Linked DNA regions of Homo sapiens. The protein of the gene in region 2 interacts with the protein of the main gene of each other region in a pairwise test. Each region holds a gene or a part of one and is shown on either strand. Other genes may lie near its edges. The genes, in order: H4C13, CBX5 and ZNF280C.

The links.
Region 1: the proteins of CBX5 (region 2) and H4C13 interact in binary tests that used the Homo sapiens proteins (3 or more experiments, as listed by UniProt).
Region 3: the proteins of CBX5 (region 2) and ZNF280C interact in binary tests that used the Homo sapiens proteins (3 or more experiments, as listed by UniProt).

Annotation. Positions count from the first base shown.
Region 1 is NC_000006.12:27,872,588-27,875,853, forward strand, and holds H4C13 (histone H4), read right to left. Parts: upstream 948-3,266; 5' UTR 924-947; coding exon 612-923; 3' UTR 561-611; downstream 1-560. UniProt on the Homo sapiens protein: Core component of nucleosome. Nucleosomes wrap and compact DNA into chromatin, limiting DNA accessibility to the cellular machineries which require DNA as a template.
Region 2 is NC_000012.12:54,252,508-54,256,260, forward strand, and holds part of CBX5 (chromobox protein homolog 5), read right to left. Parts: intron 1-3,753. UniProt on the Homo sapiens protein: Component of heterochromatin that recognizes and binds histone H3 tails methylated at 'Lys-9' (H3K9me), leading to epigenetic repression. In contrast, it is excluded from chromatin when 'Tyr-41' of histone H3 is phosphorylated (H3Y41ph).
Region 3 is NC_000023.11:130,206,248-130,210,000, forward strand, and holds part of ZNF280C (zinc finger protein 280C), read right to left. Parts: intron 3,469-3,753; coding exon 3,406-3,468; intron 1-3,405. UniProt on the Homo sapiens protein: May function as a transcription factor.

The DNA.
Region 1 (3,266 bases), on a different chromosome or scaffold from region 2:
ATCCTGTTTAAATATAAGCTTGATAAATCTAAACTTGCCTTGCACTATTTTAATTACGAGGTGTCATTACTGATTTGACAAAAAGTTAAAGAACGTAAAGGAAAAGTGAAACTAGAGTAAATTTGTAAATGGAGGCATTGAAGGGGATATGAAATTCGAGCGTTGTGGTATGCCAGTATTTCTCAAATTTAAACGTACTTAATGTTTTAGAAGTTGGCCGACTTTTTCTGTAAAGGGCGATATTAAAACATTTTGGGCGTTGCGGACCACAGTGTCATAGTTACACAGCCCTCGCATTGGTAGCGGTAAAGTAATCGATACAAGATAAATGAGACCGGCTGTTTCATTATGACTTTTGCAAAAACCAGAGAGGCGTTATAGATTTGGCCGTGTATCAGAGAAGCCGGCACTTTTAACCACTAAGTAATGCTGAAAGGGGCACCGAACCTCAAACTTCAGCGACTGCTTATGTGGAATCGCTAATTTGCCAAAACTGCCATACGTTTAAGTGTTCTTAAGAAATTAACTATCTTTAGTCTACAGCTCTTTCACAGACTTCATGGGTGGCCCTGAGAAGGGCCTTTGAGGAACCGTGTAAGTAAGTAAAACACTCAGCCGCCAAAGCCATACAGGGTGCGGCCCTGGCGCTTGAGCGCGTAAACCACGTCCATGGCTGTGACTGTCTTGCGTTTGGCGTGCTCCGTGTAGGTAACTGCATCGCGGATTACATTCTCCAAAAACACTTTAAGAACTCCGCGTGTCTCCTCGTATATAAGGCCTGAGATGCGCTTAACGCCTCCACGCCGTGCCAGGCGTCGGATGGCGGGCTTGGTGATGCCCTGAATGTTGTCGCGCAGAACTTTGCGGTGGCGCTTAGCGCCTCCTTTGCCCAGACCCTTCCCGCCTTTGCCGCGCCCAGACATGTCTTGTACTAAACAAAATGCAACACGGCAAGCCTCGCAGCAGTACTTTATATAGTAATAAATCGGACCTGATTGGGAACTCTCCACACCAGCTGCATCCGGTCGGCCGATTCACAGACCTTGCGCCCTGCCCACGACTTCAGGAAAAAATGGAAAAGGGGGTACTTAAACTCCAGTTTCTAAAAATGATGCCCAGTTAAAAATTACTCAGCTCATCTTGCCCTTCTACAGTGTTTTAGGCTGACCACCGCTGCATTCCATTGTCTGGGTCTTTGCAGCCTGTTTTTCCTGTCACCTCTTAGCATCGATTGTTCTAGTGCTTTGTGGCTGCTGGAATCAAATGGCGCCATCTCTAGAGGGGTAATCACAGTCGTTTCGGGCATTTGTGAAATAGCGTGTAGAAACTGCTTCCGTACAAACTCGAAGTGATCAGCCTATGGAGTGGCTGACTGCAAAAGACGACGCCTGATGATAGCTCCAAGGTGGGATTCCTCACCTTTCTCAAATTTGGTTCTCTATTCTTTTCCTTATATTTTACTCTTTCTGTAGCTGTCCTTTCTGTTCCTTTCTCTCCCTCGCCAACCACATTTTTGGGGCAAGAACTTTCTATTTTTTTTTCCTCATTCCACCTAGAAACACTTCAGGAAGCTGTTTGAGAAAGAAAGGTGGCTTTTACCCTGTATTTCCTTAGAATTGTGAAGGTGCCGCTTGAGCTCCCTCATGTTCCTCTTTTCTGTTGAACTAGGAAATCAGCTGTGCCCAGAAACCCTGTCTTTTACATTTACAAATAAAGTGCAGGAGGAAAAGACCGAGGATGACTTTATTCCAAGAAAAAGAGTTTCAAATGGCCGGACGCGGTGGCTCACGCCTGTAATCCCAGCCAGAAGGGAGGCCGATGCATGTGGATCACAAGGTCAGGAGTTCGAGACCAGCCTGGCTAAGATGGCGAAACCCCTTCTCTACTAAAAATAAAGAAAATTGGCCTGGCGTGGTGGAGGGCGCCCATAATCCCAGCTACTCAGGAGGTTGAGGCAAGAAAATCGCTTGAACGCAGAAGGCGGAGGTTGCAGTGAGCCAAGATCGAGCCCCTGCACTCCATGCACTCCAGCCTGGGCAACAAAGTAAGAGTCCGTCTCAAAAAAAAGTTTCAAATAAATGTTGTGTGACCTTCCTGACCTAGGCTGGCTCTGCCTTGCCCTGCCTTCCAGCTATCAGATTTCGTTTCTCAGTAATGTTTACCTTTTATATTTCAAATGTGTATGATTATTTACCTCTTTAGCAAATATCTAATTTTATTCTAAAAATCAGTCTCTGCAAGTACATTATGAACTACTCTATGATTACTGTATGTGCAAAACATTACATACTCATGTTGTAATAGTTAATCAGTTTCTCACTGAGCTAGGCTGGCCTCTTTTTCCTTTTTTTTTTTTTTTTTTTTTTTTTTTTGACAGAGTTTTGGTCTTGTCACCCCAGGCTGGAGTGCAATGGTGAGTTCTCTGCTCACTGCAATCTCCCCCTCACGGGTTCAAGCGATTCTCCGCCTCCCGGATTCAAGCGATTCTTCAGCCTTAGCCTCCTAAGTAGCTGGGATTAAAGGCACCCGCCACTACGCTCGGCTAATTTTTGTATTTTTAGTAGAGACGGGGTTTTGCCGTTTTGGCCAGGCTGGTCTCGAACTCCTGACCTCACGTGATCCGCCCACTTCGGCCTCCCAAAGTGCTGGGATTACAGGCGCGAGCCACTGCTCCCGGCCTTATTTTTTGTATTTGTAGTAGAGACGGGGTTTCAGCGTGTTAGCCTGGATGGTCCCTATCTCCTGACCTGGTGATCCACCCGCCTCGGCCACCCAAAGTGGTGGGATTACAAGCGTGAGCCATCGCGCCCGGCGATTAACCTCTTTTTTGTTATTAGTTCAGGCTGTGACCCTTATGGTCTCACAACTTCTGTACCCTACAGCATTGACATCTGTGTTTTTCAGAGGTGTAAATTTTTTTTTTTTTTTTTTTTTTTTTTTTTTGAGGCAGGCTCTTGGTCTGTCACCAAGGCTGGAGTGCGATCTTCCCACCTCAGCCTCCCCAGATCCTGGGACTACAGGTGTGAGCCACCACCCATTCCCGGCTAATTTTTGTACTTCTTGTAGAGATGGGGTTCCACCATGTTGTCCAGGCTGGTCTCAAACCCCTGGGCTCAAGCAATCCACCTACCTCGGCCTTCCGACGTGCTGGGATTACAGGTGTGAGCCACCACATCCGGTCCCTACTAAATTTTCTATGTTAAATCGTTAAATCAGATACTTTGTTAGTTCTCTTCTCCTACCAGCATGCAAACAAATAGATTTTT
Region 2 (3,753 bases):
AAACAAAATGTGGTATATCCATACAAAGGAATATTATCCAACAACAATAAGCAAAATATTAAAACATGCTACAACTTGGAAGAACCCCAAAAACATTATACTAAGTGAAAGAAATAAGACACAAGATACTACATACTAATTCCATTTACATGAAATGTCTGGGAAAGACAAATTTATAGAGACAGAAAGCAGATCAGCCGGGCACGGTGGCTCACACCTGTAATCCCAGCACTCTGGGAGGCCGAGGCAGGCAGATCACTTGAGGTCAGGAGTTTGAGACCAGCCTGGCCAACACAGTGAAACCGTGTCTCTACTAAAATTACAAAAATTAGCTTGGTGTGGTGGTACACATCTGTAGTCCCAGCTACTCGGGAGGCTGAGGCAGGAGAATTGCTTGAGCCCGGGAAGGGGAGGTTGCAGTGAGCTGAGATTGTGCCACTCCTGCCTGGGCGAAAAAGCCAGACTCTGTCTCAAAAAAAAAAAAAAAAAAAAAAGCAGATCAGTGAATGCCTGGGGCTGAGGGAGGGAGTTGTAATTAACTACAAATGGGAATCAAGAGAATTTTGGGGGACACAAAAATGTTCTGAAACTGGATCATAGTGGTGGTTGCATAGCTCTATAAATTTATTCCAAATCATTTAATTGGAGCCAGGCACAGTGGCTAACGCCTGTAATCCCAGCACTTTGAGAGGCACTCAGGAGTTCGAGACCAGCCTGGTCAATATTGCAAAACCCTGTCTCCACTAAAAATACAAAAATTAGCTGGGCTTGGTGGTGCACACCTGCAGTCCCAGCTACGCAGGAGGCTAGGGCATGAGAACTGCTTGAATCTGGGAGGCTGCGGTTGTAGTGAGCCAAGACTGCACCACTGCATTCCAGTCTGGGCAACAGACTGAGACTCTATCTCAAAAAAAAACAATAATAATAATTTAATTGGGCTGGGCGCAGTGACTCACGCCTGTAATCTCAGCACTTTGGGAGGCTAAGGTGAGCAGATCACTTGAGCCCAACAGTTCAAAGACCAGCCTAAGCAACATAGCAAGACTCCTGTCTCCACAGAAGATTTAAAAATTACTCAGGCATGGTGGCTTGCACCTGTAGTCCTAGCTACTTGGGAGGCTGAAATGAGAGGATCCCTTGAGCCCAGAAGGTTGAGGCTGCAGTGAACCGTGATTGCACCACTGCACTCCCACCTGGGTAACAGAGTGAGATACCATCTCAAAAAAAAAAAAAAAAAAAAAAATCACTGAATTGTACAATTTTTTTTTTTTTTGAGATGGAGTCTCACTCTGTCTTGCAGGCTGGAGTGCAGTGGTGTGATATCGGCTCGCTGCAACCTGTCTCCTGGGTTCAAGCCATTCTTCGGCCTCAGCCTCCCCGGTAACTAGGATTACAGGCATGCGCCACCAATTTTTGTATTTTTAGTAGAGACGGGGTTTCACCATGTTGGCCAGGCTGGTCTCGAACTCCTGACCTCAAGTGATCCGCCTGCTTCGGCCACTCAAAGTGCTGGAATTATGGATGTGAGCCACCGCATCTAGCCTGAATTGTACAATTTCAATGGGTGAATGTTATGGTGTTTAAATAATACCTCGATAAAGCTATTTAAAAACCCAAAATTCAGCCAGGCACGGTGGCTCATGCGTGTAATCCCAGTACTTTGGGAGGCTGAAGCAGTCGGGCATGGTGGCACCTGCCTGTAATCCTAGCTACTCAGGAGGCTGAGGAGGGAGGATCACTTGAACCCGGGAGGCAGGAGGTTGTGGTGAGCTGAGTTCGAGCTATTGCACTCCAGCCTGGGCAACAAGAGTGAAACTCCATCTCAAAAAAAAAAAAAAAAAAAAAAGGTTTATTTAGATGGGAATGATTTGAACACATGCCATAATAACCTGACTCAAGTAGAAAGCAGAAAGACGGAAAAATCTGAGCTATTTACTCTTGACCTAAACAACTTTCTACAAAAGGAACATAATATTGAGACAAAATTTATTTCTAAATCATTTGAGCTAATATGGGAAAGTTTCTCCTTTATATCCCTTCTCTCAGCAGAAAAAAAATTCCTCGGCCGGGCACGGTGGCTCAAGTCTCTAATCCCAGCACTTTGGGAAGCAGAAGCAGGTGGATCACCTGAGGTCAGGAGGTCGAGACCATCCTGGCCAACACAGTGAAACCCCATCTCTAATAAAAATACAAAATTTAGAAGGGCGTGGTGGCGGGCGCCTGTAATCCCATCTACTCAGGAGGCTGAGGCAGGAGAATCGTTTGAACCCGGGAGAAGGAGGTTGCAGTGAGCCAAGATCACGCCATTGCACACCAGCCTGGGCAATAAGAGCAAAACTCTTGTCTCAAAAAAAGAAAAGAAGTCAAGAAAAAAAATTCCTCACACAGTAACTTTCCCCAAAACCCACAGACCATATAGTTTACCATCCCAGAGGAAATTAACATACCAATATCAAAAGGTGTACCAAGACTATTACACAAGCCGAATACACTTGGGGGTTGGGAAGAATCTGTTGATAGCTAGAAAAGCCAGTCCTATAATGCGATTATCCCTTTTCCTAACACTTTGGTACTGCTGCTTCTACTTCAGTTTCCACCCAAAAGACAACATAGTATGATTTAAAAAGAGCCTGGGTTGGCCAGGAATAGTGATTCACACCTATAATCCCAGCACTTCAAGAGGCCAAGGCAGGCAGATCGCTTGAACCCAAGAGAGCGAGACCAGCCTGGGTAACACAGTGAGACCCTGTCTCTATTTTGAAGATAAAAAAGCAGGGCGTGGTGGCTCACGCCTGTAATCCCAACACTTTGGGAGGCTGAGGTGGGCGAATCACAAGGTCAGGAGTTCGAGACCAGCCTGGCCAACATGGTGAAATGCTGTCTCTACTAAAAATACAAAAAGTTAGCTGGGCGTGGTGGCAGGCACCTGTAATCCCAGCTACTCGGGAGGCTGAGGCAGGAGAATCGCTTGAACCCGGGAGGCGGAGGTTGCAGTGAGCTGAGATCGCGCCACTGAGCTCCAGCGTGGGCGATAGTGAGAGACTCTGTCTCAAAAAAAAAAAAAAAAAAAGATAAAAATATGTAAAAATTTAAATTAAAAAAAGAATTAAAGTTTTGAAAGAGGCAAGGGTCTTGCTATGTTAACCAGACAGGAGTGCAGTGGCTATTCACAGGTACGATCCTACTAATGCTCAAAATGGGAGTTCTGACCTGCTCTGGTTCACTCCTACTTAGGCAACCTGGTGGTCCCTCACTCCTGGGAGGTCACTATATTGATGCCAAACTTAATGCAGACACCTGATCGGTTTAGTGCACTACAGCCCAAAACTCCTGGACTCAAGCAATCCTCCCACTTCAACCTCCCTAGTAGCTGGGACCACGGGTACATACCACCATGCCTGGACTCTAAATGCTTTTGTGAGAATCGAAGAGAGCACAAGAGGTAGAATTTGATCACTGTCTAGCACAAAGTAGGCATTTAGTTATAGACAATGCTGATTTGTTCCAGTCTTTTATGAAATCCAGGGCATTTCTGAAAAAGGACCAATGTTTACTTTGTCTACCCCAAACCTTACCTTTTCCCCTTTCATCTATGGTAAGGTACCAGTAGCTCAATGACAGAGAAAGAGTTTCAAGTATCTTTCAAACACCCAAATATTTCCAGTGGAAATGGGCCCAATAAACATCTTCAAAATCTTCTGGTGTTACTTTAGTTCCTATCTGTTAGTGCTCTAGAGGTCTCTCAAACTTTAA
Region 3 (3,753 bases), on a different chromosome or scaffold from region 2:
ATTATCAGTTTATTAACAAAGCATACATATACTTTTGAAGTTCATCAGATACTTTAAACTTAAATATTTCACCTCTATAGGAAACCAGTGCATACCTTGGATTGACTTCTTTAGTTTTTTTTTTTTTTTTTTTTTTTGAGACGGAGTCTGGCTCTGTTGTCCAGGCTGGAGTGCAGTGGCACAATCTTGGCTCACTGCAAGCTCCGCCTCCCGGGTTCATGCCATTCTCCTGCCTCAGCCTTCCAAGTAGCTGGGACTACAGGCGCCTGCCACCACGCCTGGCTAATTTTTTTGTATTTTTTAGTAGACAGGGTTTCACTGTGTTAGCCAGGATGGTCTCAATCTCCTGACCTCGTGATCCACCCGCCTCGGCCTCCCAAAGTGCTGGGATTATAGGCGTAAGCCACCGTGCCTGGCTACTTCTCTAGTTTTAACAACCTGTTGTGGATTTACACCTAGCCAGAACTCCTGCACATCAAAAATTATCTTCATAAAACTGGAATCATGTGCTTTCCCCATGAAATTTAGGGGGAAAGTCTCTTTTATGATGCCATTTCCCTAATACTGAGGCTCAAATTTGTAGTTATCTCTGACTTTCTTCTTACGTAAAACATTCAATATTTCAAACGTTTTATGATGTTAACGATTTATCGAGTACTTACTCTATGCCAGTCTGAGGGTTTTAGACATTATTGCCTGATCTAAATCTTATGGCAACCCAAAGAGATAGGTGCTACAATTATTACCTTTTTACAGAGGACAGAATTAGTTTCAGTAATCTACTGAGGCCAGGATCAGGTTGGAAATGGAGCCCTTTGATTCTGAAGCCCATGCTCTTAAATATGATGTGATACCACCCCACCACCTCAGCCCAGGGCATTATTAAGTAAGTCTTAACCACTACAATAGCCTTAACCAGCCTATGTGTCTCATGCAGCTACAACTCATCCTGTATACTCCTCCAAAGTGATCTTCCTTCAGCACCCTTGATTCTACTCAAAACATCAATGGCTTCCCCAATGTCTTCCAAATGAAAATTAAGCCCAAACTCCCCAGCCTTGTTTTCAAGGATTCAACAATCTGCATCTAAGTTCAAAACTATCTCCCCAGACTGATCTTTTTTTATTTTTGGAATGGAGTCCCACTCTGTCACCCAGGCTGGAGTGCAGTGGCGCGATCTCGGCTCACTGTAACCTCCACCTCCCGGGTTCAAGTGATTCTCTTGCCTCAGCCTCTGAGTAGCTGCGATTACAGGCGCACACCACCATGCCCGGCTAATTTTTTTTGCATTTTTAGTAGAGATGGGGTTTTGCCATGTTGGCCAGGTTGGTCTTAAACTCCTGACCTCAGGTGATCCACCCACCTCAGCTGCCCAAAGTGCTGGGATTACAGGCATGAGTCACCGTGCCCGGCCAACTTTGATCTTAATATAATACTATGCTATATGAACTTTGTGCTTCATCCAAATTTTACTCCTAGTTATTCATTGTCATTCCGGAGAATGTGTATAGTTTCTGCATTTTCCTTTCTGAACTTTTATTCATGTTATTTCTTCCAACTAGAATGCCCTTGTGCCTCTTCTTGTAAGTAGAAACCTTTCTCCCCTTTGAAATCTGTATCTCTCACTGCACTTACTAGAAACCTCTTTGAATTACTGTAGTTATTTATGTTCACACCTTATATCCATACCCCTTTAATAAATTGTACATTCCTTGAAGGTTGGTACAAGCCTTCTTCATCACGGTCATCTGTATAGGACTTCCTACGCTGTATTATACATGATAGGTACACAATAAATAGCTAAAGAATATTTCATTTTAACAAAATAGTAATTATGAAAAAATTGTTTATAGAAATACAAAATGCTATGTCCATACACAGATTTTTTTAAAAAAATTTTTTGAGACCGAGTCTCACTGTGGCCCATGCTGGGGTATAGTGGCGCAATCTTGGCTCACTGCAACCTCCGCCTTCCAGGTTCAAGCAATTCTCGTGCCTCAGCCTCCTGAGTAGCTGGGATGACAGGCATGCGCCACCACGCCCGGCGAATTTTTGTATTTTTAGTAGAGACGGGGTTTCACCATGTTGGCCAGGCTGGTCCTGAACTCCTGGCCTCAAGTGATCCACCCGCCTTGGCCTCCCAAAGTGCTGGGATTACAGGTGTGAGCCACTGCACCCGACCCATACACAGAATTTGATCAATTTTCTATTCAGATGTGAGATCCACTCAAGTTGAAAAAAAAGCACCTCAGATCTTTCAAATCATACAGTTAATTTAAAAACCAAGCATACAATTGAGCTTGACCATAATGTGGTAAAAATCAAATCGAAGTCTCATCTTTAGAATTAAATCTCTTTTCATTCTTATAAGCATTTTTCAGTAAAGGTAACACCTAATATATTTTACTCTTTTCTAATTCCTCGAATTCAATGCTTTAAAAATAGCATAATTTTTTTTTTTTTTTTTAGATGGAGTTTTGCTCTTTTGCACAGGCTGGAGTTAAGTGGTGCAATCTCGGCTCACTGCAACCTCTGCCCTCCGGGTTCAAGCGATTCTCCTGCCTCAGCCTCCCAAGTAGCTGGGATTACAGGTGCCTGCCACCATGCCCGGCTAATTTTGGTATTTTTAGTAGAGACAGGGTTTCGCCATGTTGGCCAGGCTGATCTCGAACTCCTGACCTCAGGTGATCCACCCGCCTCAGCCTCCCAAAGTGCTAGGATTACAGGTGTGAACCACTGCACTTGGCCTAACATGAGTATGTTTTAAAAATACAATAAAAATTTCCTCTATGAGCTGTTGGTCCAACATTATCCACATAATTCATTTTCAACATATACATTAACTTATTCAACAAATATTTACCAAGTGCCTACTATGTGCCAGGTACTATGTGCCTGGCAAACATCTGTCAACATGAGCAAAATAATTAACAAAGGAAGATGGAGTCAAAAGATAACAAAATAATGTAAAAAAACAGATGTTTAGTTGATTCTGAGCTAAATGTGTGTGGTGTAACCAATGGTAATTATCAATGCCTTTAGAAATATTCATCAATTTTTTTTCTGTACAGTAAACAACTTATATACTTTAATTCTAAAAACATTAACAATTATGAAGGCTATATATTGATTTCAAGTATTATGGTATTTTCATAAACTTACTTCTATTCAGATATGGTTGGAGAACCTTATTTTTGTTATTTTACAAACGCAAATACATGAAGGTTTCATCTTAATGCTTGGCACTACAGAGTTTAGTCAGAGATGATAGGCTATCCCTCCAACTTTGGTCCAAGGACATAATAAACAGAACTCTATCATTTCCAAAGCAGGCACTCCAACATCAAGTTTTAAAAAGTTACTGCAATATTTCAATTGAAAGAAAAAAAAAAGATCAATGATTACCTGAGAGTTCCTGAATGCTTCTTGAAAATACAAAACCGTTTACCTGGATGGTTGCTATGAGAGCTGGAGAAACACGAGACAAACAAGATTTTATTAATTTTATTATACAACACCATATTAATTTTCTGACCACATTTCAAGCCAATGCTTAATTTCTTAGTTTTGAATAAAAGATCATGATCTAAATAATAAAATTCTGTTGGTTAAAGCTATAATCTGAATTTCTGTGTCACCCCAAAATTCATGTTAAAATCTTAACCCCCAAAGTGATGGCATTAAGAGGTGGGGCCTTTGGGAGGTGATTAGGTCATGAGGGCAGAGCCCTTATGAGATTAGTGCACTTATAAA